4 separate regions of the Homo sapiens genome follow, and regions 1, 2 and 3 are each linked to region 4. Evidence: fine-mapped expression QTL. A gene starts in region 4. Each other region holds a variant in brackets. All regions are shown on one strand. Distances are between the middles of the regions. Region 1 overlaps DNAJC13 (DnaJ heat shock protein family (Hsp40) member C13). Region 2 overlaps ACAD11 (acyl-CoA dehydrogenase family member 11). Region 3 overlaps DNAJC13 (DnaJ heat shock protein family (Hsp40) member C13). Region 4 holds the start of DNAJC13 (DnaJ heat shock protein family (Hsp40) member C13).

Region 1 (7,873 bases), 82 kb before region 4:
CTAGTGTCTTCATTTATTTTAATGTCTTTTAGTACTCTTTTTTTTTTTATAATTAAAGGATAATAGTAACCTGTTTAACTGATTTCTATAGTTTATCAAATTCTTTAGTGCTACATTCTCAGATTATTTCTCAATAATCCTTGCAAAAGAAGTTAAAGAGGTTGGGAGATCTATCATGTCATACTGATTTTTGTAATGCATCTATGTATGTACATAGATACATATACATGTATATGTGCATGTATGTATTTACTTTCAGGATTTTAACCCTGTGTCTGAATAAGCTATGGCTTACAATAAATAGCTTGAAATAGACTCTGGGTCTCCTGTCTCCCAGTAGTCTGCCATTGTGAAACACCATTCCAACTTCACTCTCTCGTCCTGTCCCTTTGTGACTCAAGGTTGGTAAGAATTATGATAGGCTCCACAGCTGAGAAACAAAGTTAATTTGCCCTTGCAAAAACTGGACTTGTAGAACTGACATCATTAGCATCAATCCATTATAAAGTGAATTTCTTGCTTGAGAGAACAAACATGTGAACGTTCTTAATTTTTAGGTTCCCTAGATCAATATTATTGTACTACTTTACTGCTTAAAGGATCTTGCACTATTGATTAAAACCCAGGCTACCTGTGAAGCACATACCTCAGTCACACTAGCCACAGCAAGTTTTCTAGCAACATAGGGTGTCAGCATGCCAGCTAAGCTTTTCCTTATGGTTGGATTTTCTGGAGTTGCTTGTTCTTCAGCCAAATACCCTCCAAGGCGACTCAGAGCATGGACACTCAGTTTGGCAAGGCTGTTTGCTACCTCCTGTTATAAAAAAAATTAAGTTGTTAAAGTAGATCTGTTATCTTACATAGGTAATACTATAATTTTACAGAATCACACTATATGGAACATATTTAAGGAGTAAAAAGTCAACCAACAAAAGGGTACAAGAGTACCTACCACTGAGGTAAACATCAGAAAGTTTATGTGTTGGGGCTTGTTTTTTATTTATAAGAAGGACCAGGAGAATCTATGTACTAACTTATACCCAATGCAGTATATCTCACAGACAACTGGAAGAAGCACATTTGGTGGTAATGTGGGGAGTAGGGGATAGGTAGGCAGCCCTGCCTGCTAGAAGCACACATTTACAATATGAGCAATAAATGAGAGCACATAGAAGAGACAGAAAAATATCTATAAAAATCAGACAAGTACTCAAGTGTTTAGGGGAGCTAGCCTCAACTGCCTGATGGTAACATTATATTGTCCTGTGTTACACAACCATAATTTTGCCATCATAAAGTTGACTCTGAGTAATTAAGAAATTATTAAATTATGTCCAGTATATGCTATTGCAAATTCCCTTGCCTGGAATCCTTTAAGCATAAGCAATTACAACTAAAAGTTTTGTAAGTAAGTGATTAGGTTTAAAAAGCAAAAAACCTAATTTTCCTGAAAAACAATTTATCTCTGGGGACTCTGGATAGCAGCTTTGGTTTGGATTAGTTTAACACCAACCTAAGGTTTGGGTTCAAATTCAATATTAAAGCAATGTTAAAGTTACCTGCTGGTTTGTTTCTTCACTTTTCTGAATGCCACTCTCTTCTAGTGTGTAGTCATAATTAAACAGAAAACCAAGGAGATACCACAAAATTCCAGCCTGAAATAGGTGTGTCTGTAGCCAGAAATCCACAGCAAAAGAACTGACACATTCTACCCCAAGAGCAGCTACGCGGGGAATACTCTGAGAGAATAAAAATGAGAGCATTAGTTGTTACAGAGTTAAAAAAAAAAAAAAAAGCTCCCAAGAGGAACTGGTTGTGCATGTATGTCAAGCCAACCACGTTATTTTGTAAAATGTTTACCTCTTCTTACATTTTCAATTCCAATTTAAATCTGAATCCTACATCCTTTAAAGCCTAAAATTAAAAGTGACCTCATGACGAGATACCAGAATTACTACCTTTAAGGCTAATGTCAGAAGACTTGGGAATAGTTTCCTGTTTCACTTCTTGTATTTTTAATTTTTAAAAATAGTGACATGGCATCAATAGCAACTTACACGCTAGTGATCTTAAATGTAACGACATATTTTGTGCAGTTGTTAAAAGATTTATTTATGTCAGTTTTTTATTCTGTAATCAAATACTTCTAAGGACATTAAGTAGATATAGTAGAGGAGATATTTTCATCAATTCCCTCACTTCTTGATACTTTAGTACTAGATCAGCATCTCGATCCTGTTTTATTCAAGACAATTCTCACTCTGCCCAGTTATTTAAGACATTTCTCTCTCCCTCCCAGTCATCTATCTCATCTACCCACAGTCAACCTTCCTCAGCAGGTCTGGATTGGGAGGAAATAGTAAGTTCTCAGATCTCTAAAGCCTTTCCCACCAAGCAGTGCCGAACTCTCTAGTTTTCAGGTTTTACATGGCCCTGTTTTTTTTTCTTTTTTTTTTTTGAGACAGAGTCTCACTCTCTTGCCCAGTCTGGAGTGTAGTGGCACAGGCTACCTCTGAAGCATATATCTCAGTCACACTAGCCACAGAAACATAGGGTGTCAGCATGCCAGCTAAACTTTTCCTTATGGTTGAATTTTCTGGAGTTGCTTGTTCTTCAGCCAAATACTCAGCCTCCCGAATACCTAGGATTACAGGCGCATGCCATCATACCCAGCTAATTTTTGTATTTTTTTGTAGACAGGGTTCTGCAGTGTTGGCCAGGCTGGTCTTGAACTCCTGACCTCAAGTGATCTGCCAACCTCGGCTTGCCAAAGTGCTAGGATTACAGACGTGAGCCACCACACCGGGCTGGCCTTTTGCTTTTAAAAGACTTATTTATTACAGGCTTCTCTTTTCTCCCTGCCACTCATTCTAATGTTCAGATGGAACCCACTTCCCTTTAGATGTATCACTTTAGTCTTTTTCTTTGTAGGCCAGCCTAGAAGCAAAGCCTCCATTTACAGCAAGGCTTCTGTGAAAAATGCTTTTAGAAATCCAAATAATTTTACTTACAAATAACTTTGGGAAAACAATGTGCTTATACATTAGGAACTGGCTAGTTGACAAAAAGACACTTTGCTGTCTGTATCTAGAAAGCATTAAAGATTAACCCTACCTTGCCAAAATATAGTACCCGACAGAGATCCTTGATGATGCTAGGCATTTCCGTGATCTTCTCTCGGCATTCCTCAAACTGAGCAGCCACACTGTAGCATTTACTTATGTATCCACACACCTGCAGACAACACAACAGAGCAAAAAAACCAGTAGAGTCACATAGGCATTCCTTATTTAACACATAGAAATCAAACCAGCAGAAATTTGTGAATAATGCTTAATGGTATATACAATGTTCCAAAATTAAACAGAATGTCTTTACTAGATCACTAGTCTTTCTCATTAAGATTTCCTATAAATGCTGGGGTAGTTGGCAAACCACAGCTACTACAACCCATGGGCCAAACTGACCATGGTCTTTGTACTGCCAAAGAGCTAAGAATGGTTTTTAGATTTTTAAAGGGCTGTAAAAAAGTCACAAAAGAAAATGTAACAGAGACTGTATGAAGCCTGAAAGACTCATATATTTACTCCCTGGACCTTTATTTTAGAAGTTTGCTGGCCTCTGGATTAAGGTAATTTTGTATAGTTTATTAACATAGCAGAATATCACAATTCTGTTTACACAACGGACTTCAAAATAGAGGATGGAACTCAACAGCCAGTACTCGTTTTATATTCTGAATTTTGCTGGCATAAGCAAAAGGTCAAATAGAAAGACACGCTCTACAAAGCTCTTAATGAACTCCTGATGAATTTCCTATCTTACAACCTTAAATGTTAAGCCAATTAAAATACTAGAGATAGGAGAGTGAGGGATGGAAGATATGTGAAACAAGAATGGCATTAAGCTGGGTAATGGAAACATATGGGTTCAATAAACTATTCTCTAAGAAAGAAAACGTAAGCCAACAGATCACAAGTGCTTTAGTACAGTTTCTTACAGTGTGATACACAGACCAGCAGCATCAATGACACTTGGAAACTTGTTATAAAAACATACTCTCAGGCCACCACCCCAGACTCACTGAATCAGAAACTTGGGGTGGGGTGGAGCTCAGCAACCTACAGTTTAATGAGCCCTCCAGTTGATTCTCAGATATGTTAAAGTCTGAACCATTGAACTAGTGCAATTTTCTTGGAACCACAGGTTTTAGCCTCACCTGTACTGACATGTCACTTGGTTTACTAGCACGAGTCAAGACAGCCACACAGCGACTAAATGCCTCTTGTAACACCTGCAGAGGAAGAAGTCAGCTATTAACTCTCCATTTTGACTTCAAGTCTGAAAGGCCTTTTCTAGCAGTAATAAAATATAAATAACCCTTTAATGTTAAATATTTGATACATAAATGTTTGATCAACATTTGTTAA[T/AT]AAATAGTAAACAAAGGACTCCTAAAAGTTTCCTTTTAAGCATTTCTAATAAGCTACTTTGTAAACAATATTACCATTATCGGTTTTGAACCCAATACTTTCCAACTCACATTGTGAAATAAAGCTCCATTTCTACCTTTAATTTGGTATAAGAATATGGAAAATATTGTGTTATCTGCTGAAATAAATTAAAGAATCTGCATTTGTACTTGCTGAATTCTTCACTGCCAAGAGTCATATAATGTGTGTAAACTGGCTTAAAAAGCACAAAGGTCACTCCGTATTACCTCTAGTCCATTCTCTCTTCTGAGCTCTTCAGCATTGAGGGCTGAACAGTTGACAGTATGGAAAGCTAGCTCTGTAGCCGCAGGCAACAATGGTGATTCTTTTGAGAAAAGGAGGTCATCTGAAGTTTCCATTGTTATAGTCCGAATAAGCATGGGGTATCCTGCATATTTATAAGGCTGTAAATCTGAAATAACCAATGGTTAGTGTTAGAAAAACAAAACAAAATTGATTATGTTGTGGTTTCAATTTTGATACCATGTTCAAGAATATGTTGCCTTAAAAAAATAAAAATGGGGCCAGGCATGGTGGCTCATGCCTGTAATCCCAGCACTTTGGGAGGCCAAGGTGGGTGGATCACGAGGTCAGGAGATTGAGACCATCCTGGCTAACACAGTGAAACCCTTTCTCTACTAAAAACACAAAAAAGTTAGCCGGGTGTGGTGGCAGGCACCTGTAGTCCCAGCTACTCGGGAGGCTGAGGCAGGAGAAAGGTGTGAACCCGGGAGGTGGAGCTTGCAGTGAGTGGAGATGGCACCACTGCACTCCAGCCTGGGCGACAGGGCAAGCCTCCGTCTCAAAAAAAATAAAAATAAAATAAAATAAAACGTAAAAAAAAAGATAAAATATTTTATCTTAACATCTTAAATGCCTCCTAATGCCAGTTGATAAAAAAAGAAATTAAACCTACTATAAAATCCCTTGGATCCTTCCTTTCTAGTAAACTTGGTTGATTTTTCTAAAATGTTTCCACTAGAAAAATAACATTTTCTGGTAAATTAACTGCACTTGGTGTATAGTTTTGATCCTTTGCAGAATACCTACTTTCTATGCTGATCTTTGTAACTTTTCACCTCATCACAGAACGCAAGGTACAGCAAATGCACCAGAAATTCTATTAATATCAATTATATGCACATCTTTATAAAGAAAAAAGACTGAGAAGACATTTACATGACACTGAATATTTTATATTAAGTTTTCTGGATAACAAGTGCCCTTGTTTATCTATTTTACCAGTATCTATTTTACCAGTTATCTTAAAGATAACTGGTATCTATTTTACCAGTTATCTTAAAGTTTTACCAGTATTTTCTTAAATTTGAAAATAATACAATTTCTTACTAGAAGTACAAAACAGAAAGTTAACTTTTAAACTACATTTAGTTAATTCCATGTTTTAATAACCAAATTTAAAAGTGAAAGCTAGTAAACCTACATGCCTAATTACTCTGTTCTTTCCATCTTCTTTTTTCAATCTAACCTATTAGGCAAAGAGATGCAAATTAATTGGCTGTGACTTTAAAAGTATCTCTATAATTCCAATTGAAATCAGCATAAATCTTTTTGACTTTTGAGGCTGACCAATAATCTGCCTTAAAACTCATTTCTAAACTGGCTTTTAAAAAAAAGGCCCCCTGGAACAGGTCCTAATTTTCCTTTAAAAAAAAAAAAAGTGACACATACGTAATAAGAAAGAACAGTGAATAACTAAGTCCTGTCAGATCAGGACCTCCACCTCAGAGCTTCTTGGGTATAAACCCCTCTTGGGAAAAGTTAAAGATGACCTTGATAACAGAGAAACCAGGATGGGCCATAACTGTATCTTGTGGCTAATAATTTAGTTATCAGCATTAAAAGACAACCAAGGGTTTTGAAAAAGGTTTCCAAACTCATTCTGATTAGTAAAAGCCATATATCTAAAATGTATTATAAACGTATTCTGTTAAACTCATGTAAAAGTAAATCAACTAATCACTGCTCTCTTTAATAATCCAACTGCTAGATCCTCAGGTTGTCCCCTCCAATACTTAAACTGCAACACCATCTCTTGTCTTTAGTTACCCAACACTCTCCATGCTTATCTCAAATCCTGAAAGTCCTCTTCCTTCTCTCCCAACATACCATAGCAAATGGCTCTCCCACTTTGTGCTGTAAGTCAAGTTCAGTTCCCAAGCCATTGGGCATCTGCCATATTGAACCTAACCCCTCATCCCCAACAAAGGGGGATGTTTTGAACATACTCCTGGCTTTCTGACTGCTACTGTTAGGGCTACTGCAAATGGCCCCACAAACACTGGATAATCCTGTAATCTGAAATTACACCTATTTCATCTATACCAGTGTTCTTCAAACTGTCCCACAGGACTAGAGGGTCCTGAGAGCTACAATAGGAAATAGAACGTATGAGAAGTATATCATCATTTGAAAAGTTTCTACTGCTTTTAAAAAATCTGAATGCTCTTGGTGTTTTTAACCTTCAGAGGCTTTTAAAGTTATGATAGGCTTTCATATGCCATTTAAGAAAACATGAAATGATCTTTAAATTCCAGATTCCATTCTGTCTCATTTAACACGTTGCTACTAAATGGCTAAACACAAAAACTAACCAAGTAACTCCACAGAGCGAAGATGTCAGAAATGCAAAATACTGAAAAACATAGTTATGAAGGGAAAGATATAAAACAAATATTTGGGCCCTTCTTTAGAAAACTACATTTTCCTTTATTTAAAACATAATTCCAAGAATCTTTTAAACAATAATTCTAAATCTATTAAATATGCTGTAGAAACAGGTAATATGGTATAGGGTTAGCTGTGATAAGGTTAGCTGGAGGATAAATTAAAATCTGAGAACAGACATCTTACCTTCTTTATGACGGTTGAAGAGGATGCTCTGTGTTTTTAGAATTAAAATTATATTCTCTGGATCTGGCCCATCCACTATTTTTGCTGATTTGGTACATAAAAATTCATATGCTTTATTTACTTTTTCAAACATGTCCTGTATGTAACAGAAGATAATTTAACGTTAATTTGGAATGTCGCAAAATTCAACTTAAACAAGACATATGGTTTGCATTTTATCAGTAACTTTAGCTATTATTTTATTGTTTATATTAAGGTATTCATTCCAACTGTAATCTAGCTGGTATACTGTTAAGGTGAAATTTTTTTTTCAAATAGTTGTCTAATGATCTCAATACCATTTACTGAAAATTCTTCAAATAAGAATATTAAATGTATCCTTAAATACATCATGTTAAACTCATACATACTAGAGAGAGTTTGCGTCTATATAACAAAAATTATGAGCTACTGTTTATTAAGCACTGTGCTAAATGCCATAATCTCACTTAATCCTCAAACAGCCATGT
Region 2 (7,873 bases), 140 kb before region 4:
ACTGGGCCATCCAGGTGTGCGGAGGTGCTGGTGTTTCCCAGGATTACCCTCTGGCTAACATGTGAGTAGATGTCATTTAAGAATCATCTACGTTTGATAGGCGTGGAGGTAAAAAATCTACAGATGCCTTGACATTAATTGCTTATGTTTATTTTCAGTGTAATTGAAGGCTAAATGAAGTGATATACATTAATATAGAGCTCAACACCAAGAAATAGTTGCTCTTATTATTACAATAATCATTTCATTCCATTATGTTAATTTTTACACTGAGGGGTCCCACTGAGGATTCCTGGGCTGTAGATACAGCATGGGGTTTCGCTGAATTTGTAGCAGGACATGTCAGTGACTATCTAATATATAGATCCTGATGACTGGGAGGCAGAAAGGAACATTCTCCATTCCCCATCTGTCCATCTCCACACATAATTACAGTGTCACCTTCTCTATCACAATGGAGATAGAGTCTCATCCTTCATCAATTTTAAACCTTAAGAAAGAACTAAATATATAGTATCATACCAGTCACTGCCTGTTCTAAGTTCTAGCAACATGTAGTAAACTGTAGCAAACCAAGAATGAGATGAACTCCACTGTACTTTGGCATTTAACTTTCCCAAGTTGGAAACTTTAAGATGGCATTGCAGAAGCCCTTTAGCTTATTTTCCTGGTACCCTTTTTCTTACCCTGACCTTGGTGGAATTTAAGAATTAATATAGTCTTGGTTGACAATCAGAGTGACTGATGTCAAAGTATCATGTTCCTCTTCCATAACTCCCTGTGTTCCCTGATTCTTTTGCTTTTTCAGGTATGCTATAACCCGAGTTTTGCGTTTAGCAGATGGACCTGACGAAGTTCATCTTTCAGCAATCGCAACAATGGAGCTGCGGGACCAAGCCAAAAGACTGACAGCCAAGATATAAGGAGGGTGGCACTGCCACATCCCACTGGCAGAAACTCTCCTTTATACAAACTTCATTGGCTCCAACATTTGAATCTCATATTTTTGTAGCAGTTTGAGCACAGGGTTAATTATTCATTTGTGGTAAAGATTATAGCATCTATTTTGATCAGTGGGTTTTATTATTTCAAGGGTCACACAGGGTTAAGTTCAGTAAGAAATGCTGTAGCTGTTGTCATTCAATCTAGTGCCTCCTTGAGGCCAGGAGTTCAGGACCAGCCTGGGCAACATAGCGAGACCCCCATTGCTACAAAAAATTTAAAAATGAAACAAGTGTGGTGGCACATGCTTGTAGTCCTAGCTACTTGGGAGGCTGAGGCAGGAGGATTGCTTGAGTCTAGGAGTTTGAGGTTACAGTAAGCTGTGATCGTGACATGGCCTCCAGCCTGGGTGACCGAGTGAGACTGTTTCTAAAAATAAAAACAAAAAATAAATTTCTTCTTGAGGTGGGGTGGAGGTGGGGAGCAAGAATTTGACCTGGCTCTGATCCCTGGTGTGTTGTGTGGGCCTCTTTAACGTTTGCCACTGAGCCTTAACCTCACTGTACTTCACTGTACTTCACACGCATTGGTGTTAACATTTTAATCTTAGAAGACCCTGACCCACTGAGGGTTTGTTGTGAGAATTGCTGAAGCCACGTAGAAGCACCTTGAAATCTGTAAAACCACAAGAAAGTACTTTATAAAAGGTATCCTTATTTGAAGTGGATAAATCTTGTAACTCGAAAAGTTGTGATTTAGAAGACAGGATTGTTTTTGAACATTAGGAATTAAAGGCTATATCTGGTCCTTACAATTTTGTAATTTGTTTCTCTGTCTGAGGAAAGCTGGCTGGATTGGTTGCTGATTTGTTTTAGTTAATCTATTGTCATGTATCTGGCCATCCCTAAGGCAAGTCACTCCATATGATCTATACTTACCTCTCTCCCTTCCCTGAATTTAGTCAGATAAAATTATGTTAAAAAGAACACCAAGGATTGTTTTGAAAAGGAAAAAAGTCTCCAAAGGATAAAGTGAGAAGATCAGTTTCAGGATCAGGGCCCCAGTCCTGGTGAGAGAATGGACCAACGGTAAACTCCTCAGCATTGTGGCCATTTCTAGGGTTCTGTCTCCTTAGGCTGTCACTGGGAGTCACTAGGCAGCCGTTCATCTGGGACAGTCTGCTAGGTTTGCCATGTGCTTGAAACCACATGGTTTTAAAGAGAGAAACTGCCCTTTCTAATAATCAGATGGCAGGGAGGGAGCGGGGAGGAGAGAGCTCACCAGCCAGGGCTCTACCCATGAAAACCCCTCCAAGATTGCCAGGCGGTCAGCGACAGAGCCTCGAGGAGGGGGCCTTGAGACTGCCGGATAGGGAAGACACCATGAGGCTCCCTAGACTGGTCATGGTCTTTCTCCAGCAAAACATTTAGGGTGCACAGGGGGTAGCTATGATTGTCCAGGGGATGAGCTAGTTAAGGGTCTCTGGTAACTGACCTTTTTAACTATAAGAACACACAACAGAAAGTTCAGCGGATTATGGAGGACTGATTTCCTCATCAACCTGTGGTTATTGATAAAAGCTTCTTCAGGGTGGGTCCTGATCACCCCAGCTGTTTCCATACAACTGTGGTTCACTTAGGTGTCATGGGCATGCACACATTTTGTCCAAGGGAAATAAAGTAGGTGAAAAGCAGTTTAGATACTTTAATGGATACATTGGGCAGGGCTTGCCCAAAACTGCTTTTCTCCTTGATCTTGAGTGAAGCTACAACACAGTGTCGGGGAAGTTCAGAAGGCAGGCATTTTTTACTTAGGCTTTCTAAGGGCTTTAAATTCGTAACATTCTTAAATAAAGGATATAAAGTGCAGTGTATTTATGAAAATGTCTGCTATGAAAAATGTCTTATTTCAGTCAAGCCAGGCAGCCCCGCTTGGCTCCTCCCTTTCTCTGACACTAGATGATCCCTCCCCAAGGAGCAGAGGAAAGGGGAGGGGGGAAGACCTCCTGTTGACAGGCTGCTGTTTGTCTGTCACATGTCTTACTCCACCATTTATTTTGCCTGGATTACTCCAGTAGTCTCTTAACTGGAATTCTAATCTATTCTCACAGCAGCCAGGATGACCTCAAATGCTGCGGTGGCTTCCATCTCACCTAGAATAAATTCAGAGTCCTTGCTTTGGCTGACGAGGTTCCATCTGATCTTGTCCTCTGACACTTCTCTGATCTCATCCCCCTGGCTCACTCGCTCCAGCATAGCCTTCTGGCTGCTGTTCCAACATGCGAGCACAGCCATGCCTCTGGGCCGTGGTTCAGACTGTTTTCTCTGCCTGAAAGGATCTACACTGAGGTTTTCCAGATGTCTAGGTCAAAAGGCACATTATTAAAATGTCCTTTCTTGACCATTGCTTGAAACTAGCACCATGACTGGGCGTGGTGGCTCATGCCTGTAATCCCACACTTTGGGAGGCCGAGGCAGGTGGATGACCTGAGGTTAGGAGTTCGAGATCAGCCTGGCCAACATGGTGAAACCCCGTCTCTACTAAAAATACAAAAATTAGCTGGGCATGGTGGTGGATGCCTGTAATCCTAGCTGCTCAGGAGGCTGAGGCAGGAGAACCGCTTGAACCCAGGAGGCAGAGGTTGCAGTGAGCCAAGATTGCACCACTGCACTTCAGCATGGGTGACAGAGCGAGACTCCATCTCAAAAGAAAAAAATTAGCACCACGTGCATTGTTATTCTCCACCTGCTTATCTGCCTTTGTTTTCCCACAGCACTTATCACCTGACATATTTCATGTTTATTTGTGGTCTGCCTTCTCAAGTGCAAGGCCCATTTTTCCCTCCTCTGTTCACTTCTCTCACTTTTGTGTGTGTGTACTGGTGTCTCCTTGGCCCCTAGAACCATGCCTTACATCCAGTAGCCACTCACAAAGCATATGAATGAATGAATGAGTGTGCATGGATGCTCTCCTGATCCCTGGTTTGCAGCACAGCAAGCGGTGAGTGAGCAAAGCATTCATGTATAGGTCTGCCAACAGAACAGAGCCAAAGCCTGAGCCCCAGCCGGTCAACACAGAGGCTGGACAACAAGAAGGGGTTATGGGTAGCTGGAGAAAACCTAAGCCTGAGAAAGGACATCAGTGTCCTGGCAGTGGGGGTGCACAGCAGTTTGGGCAAGTCAGTTGATGGAACAGGTGTTTAATGAGTATTTAACAATCCAGGGAAATACGCATTTCATTTTTTTCTCCTGATGTCTAATCTAGTCTAATCAGCTGGAGGGC[T/C]GTGATCAGCTCTAGGTACAGAGGGAAGTCAGGATGCCTAAAAGAAACAAAACCACTTCTGGTGATTGTTGGAATTTTCCAATTTTCCAAAGAAGCAGGATTCTGGGAAGTGTCCTCCCTAATTCAAGACAGACAAAGAGCACTTAGGATTTATGATCCTGCCGTGATATTTTTATTTCTTTTTCTTTTCAGCACCTCTTTCTCATTGTGGTGATTATGAGTTTATTGTGAAGAAAACCCACGCCCATTCTAGTGTGAGAGTGTAGTTAGCATAAGCTCTGTGAAACAAGGGTTTCTCTCTGCCTTACCTTCACCCCCAAATTATGTGGCCAAGTAAAGTGTAACAGTTTATCCTGGAGAGGTGCATCACTCCTAGGACACCCTAAATAAGTACAGGTGAAATGGAGAGCAGTTGCTTGGATAGGATCTCCAGAAGGTATTTTCCCCAGTCTTCCTTCATCTGATGGCTAATCACCTCGATGAGGAGCCTTTTGTCTCATTTTCTTAAGTGGGTGCAGACACCCCCTCCCTCCAGCACCCTTACCTCTCTGACTTCAGTTTCTACTGCTCTGTTTCCTTACTCTCTCCACACAACACATTGGCCTTCTGCTGTTCCTCCAGTATCCCAGATATATTCCTACTTCAGGGTCTTTGCACTTGCCTTTCTGTTTGCCTAGAAAACTCTCCCCCCACTGCATGTCCTCAAGGCTTGCTCCTTTCCTGCAAATGTAACCTCCCAGGGATTCCTTCTGTAACCATCCCATCTAAATTTCTATACCCTCCCAACACACACACACAACGCTCTTTTTCCCTGCTTTGGTTTTCTTCTTAGAACTTTTCATCGTGTGACATACTATGTATTTTTCTCTTTTCTTTTGCATATTATCTCTTCCTCTCCCCCTGCTAGAAAGTATGTTTTAGCAGAGAAGGGTTCTTGTCTGTTTTGCTCGCTGCCGCATCCCTAGAAGCTGGAGCAATGCCCGGAGCATGCACAATAGGTCCTCAATAAATATTTGTTGAATGCGTGAATGCATGCCAGCTGCAGAAGGGCAGGGAACGCAGGATGTTTGATTAACCTCCATGTGAGAAGTGTAGTAGCATAGGCTCATGTTCCCTCACTTGCCATGCAGACACTTAAAAAGAAAACTTAGGGCCGGGTGCGGTGGCTCATGCCTGTAATCCCAGCACTATGGGAGGCCAAAGTGGGTGGATCACCTGAGGTCAGGAGTTTGAGACCAGCCTAGCCAACATGGCGAAACCCCCGTCTCTACTAAAAATACAAAAATTAGCCGGTGTAGTGGCGGGCGCCTGTAGTCCCAGCTACTCAGGAGACTGAGGCAGGAGAATCACTTGAACCCAGGAGGCAGAGGTTGCAGTGAGCCGAGATTGCGTCACTGCACTCTAGCCTGGGTGACAGAGTGAGACTGTCTCAAAAAAAACAAAAAACAAAAAACTTAAAGCAGTGGTTCTTACCCTGGCTGAGCATCAGAATCACCTGAGCAGCTTGCTATAGCTACAGCTGCCTCAGCCCCAGCCCTGGTGATTATTTAGTAATAACGAGGTTCACCTGGGATTCTAGTGAATTGATGGTCAGGGAAGAGAGAGCCTCGCTTCCTGACAAGTCTTGATTATGTCAGCGTTCTTGGCTGCAAACACTAGGAAAAGACTGGCTAATGTGAGCAAAAAGAAATCTGTTGCATTAGTGTGGGAAGGGAAGACTACGGAATTCTGGAATATCCCGCCAAGACACAGGCAGAGAAGGAAGCAGGTCTTTGCAGCTGGGACCAGAGCAGCCTGACCTGGCCGATGAGAGAGACACCCCTGCATTGGTGATCTCCATCTGACCTTGTCCACCAGATCTCTCTGCCCTTGCCTTGCTTTGGCTCTGAGGTGCACATGGTTGACAAAGCTCAGTCTGCAGGCCTGCCCTCTGTGCTGTGCAGGAAGAGGAGAGTGCTTCCAGTGCTACCAATAGAAATATAAGGTATGTATGTAATTTAAAATTTTACAGTGTCACATTAAAAACACATGAAATTAATTTTATTTAACCTAATATATCCAAATATTATCATTTCTACATGTAATCAATATAGGAAAAATTATCAGTAAGCTATTTTACACTTTTTCCCCAAAATCCCAATATATTTTATAGCACATTTCAACTTGGAAGCTAAAGTTTCAGTGGAAATACTTGATCTTCCAAAAGTTAACTGTATATAAGTAAGCTTCATAAAATGTACAGTTAAAAAAGTAGGTTCACATGCCCAACTTGTTCTAAACATACTTCACAGTTTTCAAAAAACTAAACTCAGTTTTTAAATTTAATTCATTTAAAGTTAAATGAAAAATTCAGGGCCAGGTGCAGTGGCTCACGCCTATAATCCCGGCACTTTGGGAGGCCGAGGTGGGCGGATCACCTGAGCCTAGGAATTTGAGACCAGCCTGGGCAACATGGCCAAACCCCATCTCTACAAAAAATACAAAAATTAGCCGGGTGTGGTTGTGCACGCCTATAGTCCCAGCTACTCAGGAGGCTGCAGTGGGAGCATCACCTGAGCCCAGGCGGCAGAGGTTGCAGTGAGCTGAGATAGTGCCACTGCACTCTGGCCTGGGTGACAGAGCCAGACTTTTTCTCAAAATAAATAATTTTTTTAAAAAAATTCAATCACATTAGCCCGATTTCAGTGCTCAGTAGTCATGTGTGGCTAGTGGCTACTGTATTGGGCCACTCAGCTGTAGCCCCTTGGTCCTCACAGTTTCAGAGGTCACCCTCTCACCAAACTCACACTCAGTGGGGAGAAAAAGACTTGGGACATTATTAGAAATAGAGATGGATGCTGAGCAGCCCCAAACAATTGTCCACTATGATAATTAAGGGAGCATAGTGTGAACCCCAAATACCTGAGACAAGTCTCAGTCAATTTAGAAAGTTTTGTTTTGTTTTGTCTTTTGCCAAGGTTAAGGACATGCCTGTGACACAGCCTCGGGAGGTCCTGACGACATGTGCCCAAGGTGGTTGGGGCACAGTTTGGTTTTATACATTTTAGGGGGACATGAGATATCAATCAATATATGTAAGATGTACATTGGTTCAGTCCGGAAAGGTGGGACAACTTGAAGCGGGGAGGGGGCTTCCAGGTTATAAATAGATAAGAAACAAATGGTTGCGTTCTTTTGAGTTTCTGGTTAGCCTTTCCAAAGTAAGCAATCAGATATGCACTTATCTCAATGAGCAGAGGGAAGACTTTGAATTCTGTCTGTCCTTTGTCCACAAGGAATTTTCCTGTGGACAAATTGTGAGGGAGGTACATAGCTTTTTTGTCTTAGTAGCTATCTTTTTAAGGAATAGAATGGGAAGCAGGTTTGCACTAAGCAAAAGTCTCAGCTTGACTTTCCCTTTTGGCTTAGTGATTTGGGGGTCCCAAAATTTATTTTCCATTCACAATAGTGATTTTATATATCTTGTTTGGTGAAGGAAAAAGTTGACTGTAGTCCATCTCCTGTATTTAAGGAAAGAAAAAACCTAGCATGAAAAGGAATTGCTAAGTGTTTCTAGTTTACCAACAATCCTGTGATATTGTAATCCCAGCTACTCGGGAGGCTGAGGCAGGAGAATCGTTTGAACCCAGGAGGCGGAGGTTGCAGTGAG
Region 3 (7,873 bases), 50 kb before region 4:
AGCATATATTTCTATAGTTACTCAAGTATTTTCCATGTAGCCTAAAGCTGTTTCAACACCAAATTTTGTTAAAGTTTACAGTGATTAATAAAATTTAAAATAGTCAAAAACAGTGACTTGTTTCAAACATTTACATGCAGTTAACACAAAAGCCTTGGGACAACAATAAATGCAAAAGATTACAGGTTGTTAAAGTGCTACCAAAGCCAAGAGGAGCAAGTACAAATTGAAATAGCTAATGGAGAAGAAATGTGTCTACATTCAAACACATGTGAAGTTAAGACTTGAATTTATTAAACAGAGAATATCAAAGATGACTCCACATGCCAGGCAGCTTAATGCATTTCACACACGTAGCAGGAACTTACACTCACCATATTGTTTTTGTCCTGAATTTAATCGTAAAAAGGAAAAAAAGTTAAAGAAAATAAAAAGAGAATGAGCCTAGATCTGCTAAATTATATCTATTACACATCAATACAAAATTATCTTTACTTTAAGACTAAAATAGGTGCACCTGCTTCTCTAAGCCTGTGACTCAAATTTTAGGCAGTCATAAACCCTTTGAGAATTCAAAGAAAGCTATGGCCCCTGTTTCAGAGATAGGCACATACTTAAGGCTGCAACTGGAAGAGAAGATTTCAAGAATTCTTAAAGTCTGTACATGGACCAGAGGTTAAGAATCTCTGCTCCAGCCCTCTCCCTCTGTCTCCCTCTCCCCACGGTCTCCCTCTCATGCGGAGCCGAAGCTGGACTGTACTGCTGCCATCTCGGCTCACTGCAACCTCCCTGCCTGATTCTCCTGCCTCAGCCTGCCGAGTGCCTGCCATTGCAGGCACGCGCCGCCACGCCTGACTGGTTTTGGTGGAGACGGGGTTTCGCTGTGTTGGCCGGGCCGGTCTCCAGCCCCTAACCGCGAGTGATCCCGCCAACCTCAGCCTCCCGAGGTGCCGGGATTGCAGACGGAGTCTCGTTCACTCAGTGCTCAATGGTGCCCAGGCTGGAGTGCAGTGGCGTGATCTCGGCTCACTACAACCTACACCTCCCAGCCGCCTGCCTTGGCCTCCCAAAGTGCCGAGATTGCAGCCTCTGCCCGGCCGCCACCCCGTCTGGGAAGTGATGACCGTCTCTGCCTGGCCGCCCATCGTCTGGGATGTGAGGAGCCCCTCTGCCTGGCTGCCCAGTCTGGAAAGTGAGGAGCGTCTCCGCCCGGCCGCCATCCCATCTAGGAAGTGAGGAGCGCCTCTTCCCAGCCGCCATCACATCTAGGAAGTGAGGAGCGTCTCTGCCCGGCCGCCCATCGTCTGAGATGTGGGGAGCGCCTCTGCCCTGCCGCCCCATCTGGGATGTGAGGAGTGCCTCTGCCCGGCCGAGACCCCATCTGGGAGGTGAGGAGCGTCTCTGCCCGGCCGCCCCGTCTGAGAAGTGAGGAGACCCTCTGCCTGGCAACCACCCCGTCTGAGAAGTGAGGAGCCCCTCCGCCTGGCAGCTGCCCCGTCTGAGAAGTGAGGAGCCTCTCCGCCCGGCAGCCACCCCATCTGGGAAGTGAGGAGCATCTCCGCCCGGCAGCCACCCCGTCCGGGAGGGAGGTGGGGGGGGGTCAACCCCCCGCCCGGCCAGCCGCCCCGTCCGGGAGGGAGGTGGGGGGTCAGCCCCCCCGACCGGCCAGCCGTGCCATCCGGGAGGGAGGTGGGGGGGTCAGCCCCCCGCCCGGCCAGCCGCCCCGTCCGGGAGGTGAGGGGTGCCTCTGCCCGGCCGCCCCTACTGGGAAGTGAGGAGCCCCTCAGCCGGGCCAGCCACCCCGTCCAGGAGGGAGATGGGGGGGTCAGCCCCCCCACCCGGCCAGCCGCCCCGTCCGGGAGGGAGGTGGGGGGGTAAGCCCCCCGCCTGGCCAGCCGCCCCGTCCGGGAGGGAGGTGGGGGGGTCAGCCCTCCGCCCGGCCAGCCGCCCCGTCCGGGAGGTGAGGGGCGCCTCTGCCCGGCCGCCCCTACTGGGAAGTGAGGAGCCCCTCTGCCCGGCCAGCCGCCCCGTCCGGGAGGGAGGTGGGGGGGTCAGCCCCCCGCCCGGCCGGCCGCCCTGTCCGGGAGGGAGGTGGGGGGATCAGCCCCCCGCCTGGCCAGCCGCCCTGTCCAGGAGGGAGGTGGGGGGGTCAGCCCTCCGCCCGGCCAGCCGCCCCGTCTGGGAGGTGAGGGGCGCCTCTGCCCGGCCGCCCCTACTGGGAAGTGAGGAGCCCCTCTGCCCGGCCAGCCGCCCCGTCCGGGAGGGAGGTGGGGGTGTCGGCCCCCCGCCCGGCCAGCCGCCCCGTCCGGGAGGGAGGTGGGGGGGTCAGCCCCCCCGCCCGGCCAGCCGCCCCGTCCGGGAGGTGAGGGGCGCCTCTGCCCGGCCGCCCCTACTGGGAAGTGAGGAGCCCCTCTGCCCGGCCACCACCCCGTCTGGGAGGTGTGCCCAACAGCTCATTGAGAACGGGCCAGGATGACAATGGCGGCTTTGTGGAATAGAAAGGCAGGAAAGGTGGGGAAAAGATTGAGAAATCGGATGGTTGCCGTGTCTGTGTAGAAAGAAGTAGACATGGGAGACTTTTCATTTTGTTCTGCACTAAGAAAAATTCCTCTGCCTTGGGATCCTGTTGATCTGTGACCTTACCCCCAACCCTGTGCTCTCTGAAACATGTGCTGTGTCCACTCAGGGTTAAATGGATTAAGGGCGGTGCAAGATGTGCTTTGTTAAACAGATGCTTGAAGACAGCATGCTCGTTAAGAGTCATCACCAATCCCTAATCTCAAGTAATCAGGGACACAAACACTGCGGAAGGCCGCAGGGTCCTCTGCCTAGGAAAACCAGAGACCTTTGTTCACTTGTTTATCTGCTGACCTTCCCTCCACTATTGTCCCATGACCCTGCCAAATCCCCCTCTGTGAGAAACACCCAAGAATTATCAATAAAAAAATAAATTAAAAAAAAAAAAAAAAAAAAAAAAAAAAAGAATCTCTGCTCCAAATGAAACCCATGTATATACATCAGATATGAAAACTCTAATCCTCATTGTGATAGAAACAAAAAGTAGAAAGTGGTATAGATTAAAACACGGAAGTCTGTAATTTCATTAAAGTGCAAAAAAACCCCAGACTAGACGACATAGAAAGAAAAAAGGTAAAATAAATTTTAAAAGATATTATTTCAAATATAAACCCTAAAAGTTATATAAGAAAATGTTTCCTACAAATTTTAATTCTGTGCACTATCATGAAAACTAATGCAAAGTGGCTTGAATAAAATATATAAATAATTCAAAATTTGGTTTAATGACAAATCTTTTCCTAAACTTTCTAATTAAGAAGTACTTTCTTCAATCCCTCCTCCCCGCCAGGACAAAAGGCTGGCAGTCCAGAGTAATAAAAATGTAAATGCTATACAGAAAAAGGACAAAAAGCTCTCCATAAACTAAGTGACTGAATTGGAGACTCAGGCTAACAGCTCTAACTAGCTAAACAAATCCCTTAACTGAAAATAACAAAGAAAAAGCAACCTTATACATTAGCCAAAGGTTACTACTAATCCAGCACAGAGCATCAGCTGCAAATGGAACTGACTTCATAAACATTGACTATATAAGAAATGCAGATTGT[T/C]TCAAGAATCGCCAGTTAATCTTGACAATGATTAGTTTTCAGACTCTAACTACAGCATAAGATCATTCCAAACTTTGATGTTAGTGTTTCTATTAATAAAATAGTCACAAAGATTATTTGCTGTTCCCTAAAGAAATTACTGTTAAAAATAGTACCCACGCAGAAAGGGGATAAGCCATTGATGCTAACCAAAAGATCTTCTTGACCAACATTTATCTGGCATCATTATTTGCTCAAAACTTTAGTAATACCCCATGTAAATGATACCAACAAACCAGTAAAACTTTTATATTAAAAATATCCTTTTCCCTCTCAATTGTTTTAAAATAGCAGATTTTTATCCATAGTTTTAGCTAAGACTAGAGCTTTGTGTTCATGCTTATGCTGGATAAATGTTACATATGAAGTCTGATGCCAAAAACTTATCTACAGTATGATAATTATATTCAACAGCTTGAAAGAACTGTTATTTTAGAAATCGGTTTAACTACCTGAAGCCAGGAGCTTGTAATTTTTAATAACTGTGAAAATCATTCATATCTGTAGATTTTTCAACTGTTCAAATGCTATACCAGTATTATCCTGACCATATATGTATATAGTGCCTTTACTATTATTTTGCTTGTATATCAAAAAAACCCTATAAGATAGAGAAGGGAGGTATTGTTATTCCGATTTATGAAAGAGGAAAGTAAGGTTCTAAAAACCGTAACTTGGATTAACAAGTGATGAAACTAGGCTCAGAAGTTAACCAACTCAAAGTTCAGTATTCTCTTTACTATACTACATAGTCACTTGAAAGCCTAATGATTCTTTATATTGAATATATCACTTATATAAATTAGCAGTAATCTATTATTCTGGAGCTCTAAAGAATTGAACATTGATCCCAATTTCAGATAGATACACAAGACTATAATATTTGTTCTGCTATGCTTACGTATTCTGGTAATCCATAAGAAACCCACTTGTTTTAGAAAGATATTAAAGTTATTTTCCTTGAATATGGCAATAGCTACCATAAGTAAGGAGAAGATTAAGGAGAAACAATGTATGTGTGATCAACAAAAACTGAGATCAAGATTGCTTCTACAGGACATCTCAATTCATACTCAACCACTGCCAAACCCATTATAGATAGAAGAATGCATTACTGAATCAGGTTCTGTAGAACACACTGCATGCTGAAGAATGAGACTAAAACTGTTTTAGATCTAACTTTGATTTGAGAAACAAATATTACAAAATTTAAGTACGCACAATAAATTGAATTTAAAATGTGAATCTTAATCTCCAAAACACTTGTCTGGCTAGTTCTGAATAAAAAGGCTAACAGGAAGAGCACCTTTATTTTTATAGGTGCAAAACAAAGTCCAGAGAAGAAGGGAAGAAAATAAATACATATGAATAAAAAAGAACAAAAACTGGAATGGAAGAAAAATTAAGAGTGGAATTCTATATTAAATACCAAAATAAAAACCTAATCATCAACTCATAAAACTATGAACTAAGGAAAATGTATACAAAAATATGAATTAGAAATTAGGTACCATTCGGCCGGGTGCGGTGGCTCACGCCTGTAATCCCAGCACTTTGGGAGGCTGAGGCAGGCGGATCACGAGGTCAGGAGATTGAGACCATCCTGGCTAACACGGTGAAACCCCATCTCTACTAAAAATACAAAAAATTAGCCGGGCGTGGTGGCGGGTGCCTGTAGTCCCAGCTACTCGGGAGGCTGAGGCAGGAGAATGGCGTGAACCCAGGAGGCGGAGCTTGCAGTGAGACGAGATCGCTCCACTGCACTCCAGCCTGTGCAACAGAGCAAGGCTCTGTCTCAAAATAAATAAATAAATAAAATAAAAAAGAAAGAAATTAGGTACCATTCATTTTTAAGCTTCAGGTATTCAGCAAGAAATGTATCGATACCATCTCTGTGAACAGCAGGAACTAAAGTAGACTAGGACACACAGAAGTGCCAGGAATTTGGAAGCAAATTTTATTTTTACCTCTTTTTGAGCAATGCCCATCCTATCCCTCCAGTGCATCAATACAAGATCCACTTTTTCTTTGGCAAATTTTTCAACTTCTTTAGCAGCTTTTCCAGCTAGTCTTTGCCACTCTGGAACTTTATTAAATTTTCCATACTGATCCTGTAAAATAATGTTGGAATCCATTACATGCCTGTTTGCAAATTTATTTTAAAACTCTATGTAAAGCTGAGTCATTCTATCTATTTTATAAGGTTAATGCTGGATGTTATGGTTCAGTGAAGAAACAAACTGAAAACTTCTACAATTATACTTTTTATCCAAGAAACTAACTTTTCTACTTAGGTTTCAAGATGATTCTTTTATGAGGGGTGGCAAGATGCAAGTGGGAGCTGGGTGCAGACAGAGAAGGAGTGATGACAGAAAAAGAATACACGTAAGAAATTATTATAGTAGTGTATCATAAAGATGTTTAATTTTTCCATGGATGGCCCAACCTTATAATTAACATAGATCTTGTAAGGAAAAAAACCCTACCTATAACTTTTTTCATGGTTGGCCGTTTTTACCAACAACATTTATCAATCTCATATGTGCAAAATACCATATTTACACACTTACTGGTACTCCAGAACGTACCAATAAGTTGAATTAGAGAAACAAAACACAGAATAAAATGACCACTATTCATAACATTAATTTGTGGTGATAGCTGCACAACTCTGTAAATATACCACAAATTATTTAATTGTATACCTTAAAAAGATGAATATTATGGGATGTAAATTTTACCTCAATAAAGATATCAATAGTTAAGTATACTATTCAATGCAATGAATTCTTTGTTTCTAAAATTTTTAACGTGTTTCAAAAAAAGACATATATATAACAGTACCCTTACTCCTAAAAAAGGCACACTTGGGACAGTCATATTTACCATTGCTATTTTCACATTGTCTCTAACATGCATCCGATCAGCATCCTTCTCAGGTACGAGATCTGAGCTTTCCAAGTATGCCAGCAAGCCTGGCGGCTAAAAACACAAAATCCATTTTCAAAACAATGTGAAAAAGAAAATTTAGCCTTAAAAACCCAAATAAATTAATACTGTGGCTTAGCTATTGAGGGTAAAACTTTACGGTAACTCCTATGATAAATAACTTTTCAATAAAAAACAAACCATCCCCTTTTAACAGTACAGATAACTTGTTCAATTAAATTTTATTAGGCAGTATATAACCTAATTTCTCAACTGACTTACCAAAATGCGTTTCAACAAGTTTGTTGCAGTTGCATTATCAGCTGTCCAGAGTCCCACTAAATGTCTACTTAGCTGTCTGAAAAAAGCAGACGTTGAGAAAGGTTTGCTGCTTTATCTCAGCTAGAACAGAAAGGAATTTTTAAGAACAAAATATCACATAATTATAAAAAATACGGCTACAGTAAAAAAATCATTCCGATGTTAAAAATAGTTATTAAAAAATTTAATGTGGAGAGTTATAATTCAAATATTACTAATATTTTGGAATTTTCTAAAAATTAAAATGTTTTCCTAATAAACATACACTCATTTTCAATAAACCCGAACAGGAAAAAAGTAGGTTTTTATCCCACTTAAAGGAAGAAAAAAAACAACAAAAACAATTAGATTTGATGACACAATTAATTTGTTTAACCAGTCCTACTAATATAGTGACAATGGCATCCTGGCATTTTTTGGAATTCTGAACAAGCAGAAGTCAACAACTGTTCTAATATAACCGTTTTGGCAAGATCAGAGAGAAAATTATTTTCACTTCTAGAGTTTGGGCAAAGACCTAAACCACTTATAGCAAATTATTCAACTCATCTCACTTAAAAGCTATAAAAGTATATTTTAATTCAAAGTAAAAATCTAAGATCCAAGTTCAATCTATGGTTTAGTCATTTACTAATTTTAATCCCCATTCAACACCTGTCACCTTAACTGAAAGCTCCTCATAAGTAGAAACCCTATTTTACCCACCAGTGACCCTTCTGTGCTTTGGTGGGGATTCAATTACCATAGCTATAAGAATGGTCATGAAACCTATGAGGGAAATATCCAAATAACCACCCACAAACATATGTTTTATATATGTTACATTACTGAAGAACAAAATTTAACTGCAAAACCCAAAATATACTTTGTCACCAGAAAGTGAACGCCACTAAAACTGTTCATTCCTGTGCCAATTTGAAAGCTAACATATTGAAGTAATTAAACTTGTAATTTCCTTC
Region 4 (7,873 bases):
TCTGAGGCACTATGACTGGGAGCACTACTAGCATTTAGTGGATGAGACTAGATATTCAACATACATTACAGTCCCAAAGATAAGTACCATCCACACCATACGACTTTCAAGTGTCCAAGTGAGCCAGGTATGGTGGCTCACACCTGTAATCCCAGCATTCTGAGAGGCTGAGGTGGGAGGATTGCTTGAGCTCAGGAGTTTGAGACTAGCCTGGGCAACATAGTGAGACCTCGTCTCTACTAAAAATAATAATAATAAAAAAAAGTTAGCTGGGCATGGCGTGCCTATGGCTCCAGATACTAAGGAGGCTAAGGTGGGAGGATCGCTTGAGCCCAGGAGATCAGGGCTACAGTGAGCTATGATCGTGTCACTGCATTCCAGCCTGGGCAACAGAGTGAGGTCTGAAAAAAGAAAAAAAAAAAGGAAAAAGAAAAAAGTCCAGAAGTCCAAATGCTTAGTTGGTTAGTCATGTAGGCAAAAACCTATTTATAATGAATGAATCCCAGACTCTAATTGTTTTATATATAACTCACCAAGTACATTTTGCAGGGTTTAATATACAGAGATTTTTCCAGGAATGTGGCTGCAATGTAAATTAAGAGATTATACTTTATTAACCCTGTTCTTTTCTGACAATGCTAATAATCTCAATTGTGGTATTTGAGTCACCAATGTGACAAATCTGTAGACATCAACATTTCTGTCAAAAATCAAAATGGGCCAGGCATGGTGGCTCACACCTGTAATCCCAGCACTTTGGGAGGCCTGGGTGGGTGGATCACTTGAGGTCAGGAGTTCGAGACCAGCCTGGGCAACATGGTGAAACTCTGTCTCCTAAAAATACAGAAAAAAAAAAAAATCAGCCCAGCATGGTGGCAAGCGCCTGTAGTCCCAGCTACTCAGGAGGCTGAGGCAGAGGTTGCAGTGAGCCAAGATCGTGCCACTGCACTCCAGCCTGGGTGACAGAGCAAGATTGTCTCTCACACACACAAAAAAAATCTCAAAATGATTCCATGTAAAGATACAAGCCTCTGACACGTCCTTTGTGTATTTTGGTATAATCATACTTAACTATTTACATATTGAAATGCATATAGTCAATTCTGCTATAATGCTTTCTTGATCATGTGAATTTTAACAGGATTGGTGTATTACTGAACAATTTGAGCATAATGAAAATGTCACATTTGCTTATAGTGATTCTGTCCCAACACTAAGTGAACGCAGAAAATTGTACCCAACTGAGTCATGCAGGAATTCACAAAATACACACACACACTTCAGGTGGTCAATGAACCACATACATTCACATATATGTTACTAATTTTCCACTCCATCTTATAACTTTTTTTCCTTCTACTACTTCACAGTAATTCAGAAACTATAACTCCATCCAATGCTCACTGCATTGTTTGCTCAAACTTTTTCAAGGCAAAATGTCATTATTATAGTATTTAACATGTACAAAACAGTTCTTTTTAAGCTCCTATCTTTTTAAAAAATGTATAATGATGACTGCTCTTTCTCTTGGGAGTTTTTTTCATGGGCCTCATAATTTTTGGTTAAAAGCTGGACATGTTGTGTAGGAGTAGAGATTGAGGTAATTTTTATGACTGGAAATGAGCACGCCTGTTCTTTGTGAGGCCTTTGGTGAAGGGTTTGTGTTAATCTGGTTAGGAGTTGGACTTAGTTTATGATTTGTTTTTGCCATAGTTATCCTCAGTGTATTACAGCCTTCATGAATCTGCAGAACAGTTTGTCTCTCTGGTGGGCGATGGTTTACTAGAGCAATGCCTGTTTGATTCTTTGTGTTGTGCCTCTTTGCATAATCTTGTTCCTTTCCTAGTAGTATTTTGTGGGTTACTTGTTACTGAAAGCTTCTTAGCTTGGTGGCAGGGGGTTGGGGGTGGGGGATACAGTCTGATGTTCTGATTAAGTCTAAGTCAAACACTGTGTTCCTGAATCTCAGGAGGGCAGCACTCTCGGTTCTGTTGACCACTCCCGACTGCAGTTTTGGGCTCAGGGCCCCTCCTCCAGGCATAAGATTCTCTCCCACTTCTCATCTACCCCCTGAATGTTCACCAATGGGGCCAACAGAGATACCCTTCTCCCCAGAGATTAAAGCTTTTTTCCATAGAAGAGGCAGAGGGGAAGAATCACAGCAGTTTCTTGACCCTCTTAAAAGTTCTGTTGCTGTTCCTCTCCCTCTCAATCTGCACAGCAGACTCACCCAGGGTTCTTTCCAGTCTTTTCTAGTAGACCCAGGGAGGTTTGTGGATAAGAGTTTGCAAGATTGTGCATTCAGCTTTCATCATGCTTTTTGTCCAGTTGTGTCTGAAGACGGTAAACAGAAATTGACATCTACTCTCTGTAAGCACTGTCTCTCAAATTTTCAGCCAGTGGTTTTGCTCTGTGGACTCAGCTCTTTAATAGATTTCAAAAAAGTCATGAATTTGTAGTGTAGGTCTTTTTTTGTTGCAGAAGTGAGAGCAAAGCTTCTTTTTTTGTCTCAGGGCCAAAGCCAGAGGTAGTTACATTATTTATAAACTAAAGATAGCAAAGAAGGTGTTACTAATTATTTTTTATAAAAAGGGAGCCTTTATTGGGTCTAATAAAGTTGAGAAACACTGACTCAAGGAACTCTTTCAAAATATTAATAACTCCCCTTTAACTACTGCCATGTTTTACAGTGAACATTTAGGCCAAAACCTATTTGTAGCAACCAAATTTGTGCTGCAGTTTATCTGCACAGCCTTGTTTCAATTACTAATTTAAAGTACCTCAATCAGAAGCAGGGGAAAGGTATGTGTAGCAGAAACCTCATATTCACCTGTGTAAACAGAACTGGTTGAGGAATGAAGCCAAATTAGTTAAAACACATCTTTTCAATTTCAACCCTAATTTGGGACCTATTGAGAACCGGACTCCACTATCAACCTTTTAACAAATTTAATAAAGCCAGTATTGTTACAGTCCACCTGGGCAAGGCAACCATCTTCTATTTATTTGTGGATAAAGTTAAATTATTCCAAACAATTCATTCACTTATTAATATTTTATTTTTTAGCTTAAGTATTTTGTTTACAACTAAGCTTGTTAACAATATATAACATTAATATATTTTAGACTATTTATTACTACCACTTTAGAAAAAGAGGAATATTCATTGCCTCTCAGTGGAATACAAATGCTGATATTTTCCATGAACTGAACTCTAGCCTTAAGGTTCTTTACATTCTTATTTCTTAATAATCCTCTGACTCCTCTTTTCCTCCCTTAATATGTTCTACTTCCTGTTTTCAAACAAGGAGTATAATGTAATAATTTCTACACAAGGACGTGTGTTGCCTGAATGCATTGTGATACTAACAGCACAAGCCAAGTCTGAGATATAGTAGCTTAAAAAGCGTTTCACATTACACAAAATGTGAACAAGGTTTTACGTTATATGATAGATAAGCCAATAAAGTACTTTCCAAAAATCAAAGAACTGTGTTCTGGATACCGAATTTCTGACAAGTGGTTTCTATAAATTTATTTTTTTAAGGCAAATTCTGTTTCATACTCCCATAAACTCAAAGTACTGGTAATATATTATAAAACCTTATCACTGTAATTTTCCCTGCAGGCAGTAGTTTCAAACCTAGAAACCTATCAAGTCCATAAACTGAGAAAGAAAATATAGTAAGAAAGAATTACTGGGGGCAGGTTCTGAACTTCTACTTTTTTCCCCAAGACACTGTATTACAAAAGGCTCAACATAACTGTACACTATAAAGCCCTTCATAGAGGACGCAACAGCATCAGGTACAGAACCTCCTTTTTGAGGGAAATCAGAATAACGTAAAAGGGAAAAGCAGAGGGAAAATGAGAAATAATTACTTTGGGAGACCACCGCCACATTAGGGTGAAATCTTTACTTTTTTCCCCCCTCTAAGCAACGGACACAGGAAACAATCTTAAGACAAACGTGGTTAACGGAACACGCTACAAAAGGAGAAAATTTAAGGGAAGGCACTCTTAAACATAGTTAAGTATCAAGTGATTAACAGCCACTTCACTGAGCGTCTAAGTCCTACTTTACCCACTCCAAAGGCCACATTCAAAGATAAAATCACAGCAGCGGAGGAAAGGCCACGTGAATAAGCTGCCTTGCAGGAAGGAAAAGCCTTAGGGGAGAAAATGATTTTAGAAAAAGTACTGGAGAACAGACGACGCGGATGCTCATTTCCTAACAAAACGAAACAAAGCAAAGAAAGTCAGTCTGCAGGACTTGTTCGGAAGGAGGGTCGCTGACCCAAGGAAACAAGAGTTGCCGGCATCCAGCAGGAAGGGTGCTCAGACTAGGAGACTGGAAGGGAATCCCGAGGGCGGAACCCACAAGGGAATGAAGAGCCTGTGGGGTAAGGATATGTTAAGGCGAGTGGAGGAGCGTACTAGGTATAAAACAAGCAAAAAAAAGGGGTGGGGCTGGACAGGGCAGCGCCCTGAGCTAATGTCACTCAAAGCCGGGGGGGCGTCCAACGAAAGGAACCAGACCAGCAGCCTGGGGGAAGGGTAATCTGCTTCCTTAGCAGCTGCAGGCTGCAGCAGCCAAGACCACCCCGTTTTCCCTGCCCTGAGCCCCACAAAGTCCCCACGGCGTGGGAAGGGAGTAAGGCAGAGCCCCAGAGCCCAGTGCCCGGAGTCGGCTTTACCTTCGCGGGAGGCTGGAGAGGCTCCAGCCCTAGCTCCTCCCGCCGCCGGCTCAGCTTCCAGAGTGGGATGAGGCGCCCTCCGGCCTCCTCACCCTCACCACTTCCCCTTTCCCCCGCCGGGGCCCTGCAGCTCCGCTGCCGCGGGTTCCTGGTGCCGCCGCGGCGCTGCCTCCCCGCCCCCTCCGCCTCCTCCCTCTGCCTCTCAGAGTTTCACTCTGGAGGCCGCCATCTTCGCTCAGGCTTTGAGCGAGCGCGCTCTAATACGCCTGCGTCGCCACCGCCCAGGCTGTCACGAGACCCAGTCAGCTGATTTCAACTCTTCCGTCTTCTGCCCCGCCCTCCCCGTCCTCCCCGTCCCGATCGTTCTTTCCCTGAAATTCTGCTTTCCTCCGGCCAGCCCCCAGCAGCTACACATGCGCAGAGTAACGACACCGGCCGTGGGATTTGGATTCCACGCAGCGCGTCAGGGGGCTGGCGCCTCGGTGGGTGCTGAAAAGGACACGCCCCTGGGCGCGCGCGGGTGCCCATGACCACGCCCCTCCGGCGGGTGCCCATGACCACGCCCCTCCGGCGTGTGCCTTAGGGCCGCGCCCCTCCGCTTATGTCCTGCGGAGAGTAGGGTCGCAACCCGGTACTTAAGCTTTAAGTCCGAGGAAATCTTGTTTTAAATCACCTCTTTTTAGCTCTTGCCGTCAAGTGCCATGGAGCATCTGCGAGGCAGTCTGAAGCCTCAGCCTATCTCCTGGTTTGGCTGGATTGGGAGCCAGCAGGTTCATTTACTATTGAGACGTCCTGAACGACAGCAGAGCAGGGTTTAAGTTATGGATGCTCTGGAAGGTCTCAGAGACCAAATTCTCAGAGACGCCTAAGGCATTTGCAGGTGGGAATGCTGGAAAGATAGTTCTGGTAGCCCCATTTATTGTGTCCGGATCAAGTGTTTAGAAGTTTACTTAAAGCTGCTTAATCTTCAACTCTCTGAGATACGAATCATCCTCGTTTTGCAGATAAGTTGAGGCCCAGCCTCAGAGTAGTGGATTTCATGTTTGCACCCAAGTAATTTGAACCCAGAACCTGTGCCCTCTAGATAACCATCTTCCTGAACCTCACCTGAGAGGGAAGTCAGGGCAGTGAAAAGAGGGGATATTGGGACTAAAGGATTCGGCTAGAAATTATGTGTTATCTGTGGGCAATGGTTTAAATAAGAAAGGTCAATGTCCACTCCCAGATCTGAGCCGTAAAGACCACAGTTTAAAAATTAGTGATTAAAAAAAAAATAGTGATTCTGCTGCAGACTTCAGAGTAGAGGCAGTGTAGGGTGACCTGCATGGATACATTATTGTATAAGGGTTAAAGGTCTCTGATAAGGAGTTGAATACTCATTCTTCATGGCAGTCCTGAAATTGTGATTTCTTGGCGTCCCCTTCAGCAAGTTGGCTCATTTTATAGACAGCGATTGCAGGATGAAAAAATGTGGAAAAATGGTTTTTACAGACTTTACCTCTTGATTCTATTAACCCTTTGCCCTACCTTAGGGCGGAAAAAGACTATTTGTGTTTATCCTTAGACTTTTCTGTAATGCAGCAGTAAGATAAGGTGCATGTAAGGGAAGGTACTAGGAATAGCTGGGTGTGGGAAGACAGAACCCGAAATAGAGTAGGAAGGGAGGAGGAGGAAAAAGAAACAGGAGGGCTGTGTTAAGGGGCCTTATTGGCTTATCCCATGGAAACAGAAACGTGTTTATGTGGTTACAAAGCCTTCCAGTAATCCCAAAAGTAAATGTGGGGTATATTATTTCGATTTTAGAGAAGCAGCAGACCCAGAGAGTCCAGGAGACTTGCTAAAGGTGACCTAACTCCTAAAGGTTGAGCCAAGATTAAGACACAGGGCCTGCCTGTAACATCAAGGCCAGTGAACTGTTCAACCTCCACACTGCCTCTCTGTTCAATATTTGAGACCAATAAAATCAATTCTCGTGTTGAGAGGAGCCTTAGGCATCATGAATTGTCCCCATCCTCTGTAGTGCAAAATTGCCTCACAAGACATCTTTTTCCATTGCATTTTTATAAGCCATTTTCCTTGTATTCAGCCAACTTGCACTCTCTTCTATGAGTAGTTATTTTGTCTTTGTTTCTTGCTCTTTTCTTCTTGTATGTGACATTCATTTAAGCACTTATCAGTACAGCTTATCACCCTTTCCCACTCCCTCTCCCGTGCATATCCTTCTAACTACCCCTGCTACAGATACTCATTTTAAGAAACCATATTCAAAGTACTTTCAACCATTGTTCACAAGATGTAGTTTCAAGCCTTTTCACAACCACTGGTTGCTTTTAATTGGATCCATACAATTGGATCCTTCTTAAAATGCCACAACAAAATACAAGAGTCAGGGAGAGTAGGACTTGTCTCTTCTTTCCCTATTAGGTTAAATCAGTTGGATCCTTTCCCCACCCAACTCTTTTTTAAGAGTGACAAATGCACACTTCTTTTTCTGGATTTGTCTTTTTATTCATAATTAAAGTTTGCACTAGCGTTTCTGACACTTTCATAGTGCAGATGTATCAAATTTACAATCTAAATTATGTGATGTACACTTAAAATATTTCACAGCTTTTTAAAAAATACATTTCACAGCCTTTTAGGCACCAATAGCCTTTATCAGTCTCCAAAGTTAGCATACAAGGCTGGAGTGATCTAAGACTTTAGAGAGCCCACAAGAATGTCAAACACTTGCTTATCTAATTCCCATTGCTGCTAAATTGACCTTCCTAATTATATCAATGCCCAGATCCAAAGTAAATCCTTAAGAACTCATACCACTCAACAATGCTTGAACTATGTTTTCAGTACAGTAGCCACTAGCCCTATGTGGCTACTGAACACAGAATAAAAATTAAAATTGTTACAAAAAAATGTAAAATGTTGCATTAGCAATTTTTATATTGATTACACGTGTTAAAAGAAAAAAATATTTAGGCCGGGCACGGTGGCTCACGCCTGTAGTCCCAGCACTTTGGGAGGCTGAGGCGGGTGGATCACCTGAGGTCAGGAGTTTGAGACCAGCTTGGCCAACATGATGAAACCCCGTCTCTACTAAATATAAAAAAATTAGGCGGGCCTGGTGGTGCATACCTGTAATCCCAGCTATTCGGGATGCTGAGGCAGGAGAATCACTT

Evidence for each region. PIP is the estimated chance that this variant, and not a neighbour inherited with it, causes the effect. A credible set is the group of variants that fine-mapping cannot tell apart.
Region 1: its variant is the best candidate, but not a certain one, in a credible set for the expression of DNAJC13 in blood mononuclear cells (TOPMed, PIP 0.89).
Region 2: its variant is the best candidate, but not a certain one, in a credible set for the expression of DNAJC13 in coronary artery (GTEx, PIP 0.61).
Region 3: its variant is the best candidate, but not a certain one, in a credible set for the expression of DNAJC13 in blood mononuclear cells (TOPMed, PIP 0.60).

The regions. Positions count from the first base shown.
Region 1 is chr3:132,496,155-132,504,027 of GRCh38, reverse strand. DNAJC13 (DnaJ heat shock protein family (Hsp40) member C13) reads right to left here. Exons shown (of 56, transcript NM_015268.4): 36 at 7,365-7,500; 37 at 4,718-4,902; 38 at 4,220-4,294; 39 at 3,115-3,234; 40 at 1,560-1,739; 41 at 647-814. Among named protein-coding and RNA genes, the nearest start is that of DNAJC13, 83 kb to the right of the region's middle. The variant T/AT (reference allele first, on the strand shown) is at 4,431.
Region 2 is chr3:132,552,021-132,559,893 of GRCh38, reverse strand. ACAD11 (acyl-CoA dehydrogenase family member 11) reads left to right here. Exons shown (of 20, transcript NM_032169.5): 19 at 1-61; 20 at 809-1,753. The coding sequence ends at 923. NPHP3-ACAD11 (NPHP3-ACAD11 readthrough (NMD candidate)) reads left to right here. Exons shown (of 45, transcript NR_037804.1): 44 at 1-61; 45 at 809-1,756. LOC124909436 (a long non-coding RNA gene) reads right to left here. Exons shown (of 2, transcript XR_007096094.1): 2 at 6,238-7,873. Among named protein-coding and RNA genes, the nearest start is that of ACKR4, 41 kb to the left of the region's middle. The variant T/C (reference allele first, on the strand shown) is at 4,225.
Region 3 is chr3:132,465,073-132,472,945 of GRCh38, reverse strand. It overlaps DNAJC13 (DnaJ heat shock protein family (Hsp40) member C13), which reads right to left. Exons shown (of 56, transcript NM_015268.4): 18 at 6,876-6,951; 19 at 6,552-6,647; 20 at 5,633-5,776. Among named protein-coding and RNA genes, the nearest start is that of DNAJC13, 52 kb to the right of the region's middle. RefSeq lists an enhancer at 380-907. The variant T/C (reference allele first, on the strand shown) is at 3,627.
Region 4 is chr3:132,414,585-132,422,457 of GRCh38, reverse strand. It overlaps DNAJC13 (DnaJ heat shock protein family (Hsp40) member C13), which reads right to left and starts at 4,956. Exons shown (of 56, transcript NM_015268.4): 1 at 4,698-4,956. RefSeq lists enhancers at 4,092-4,627, 4,567-4,716 and silencers at 4,747-4,886, 5,167-5,266.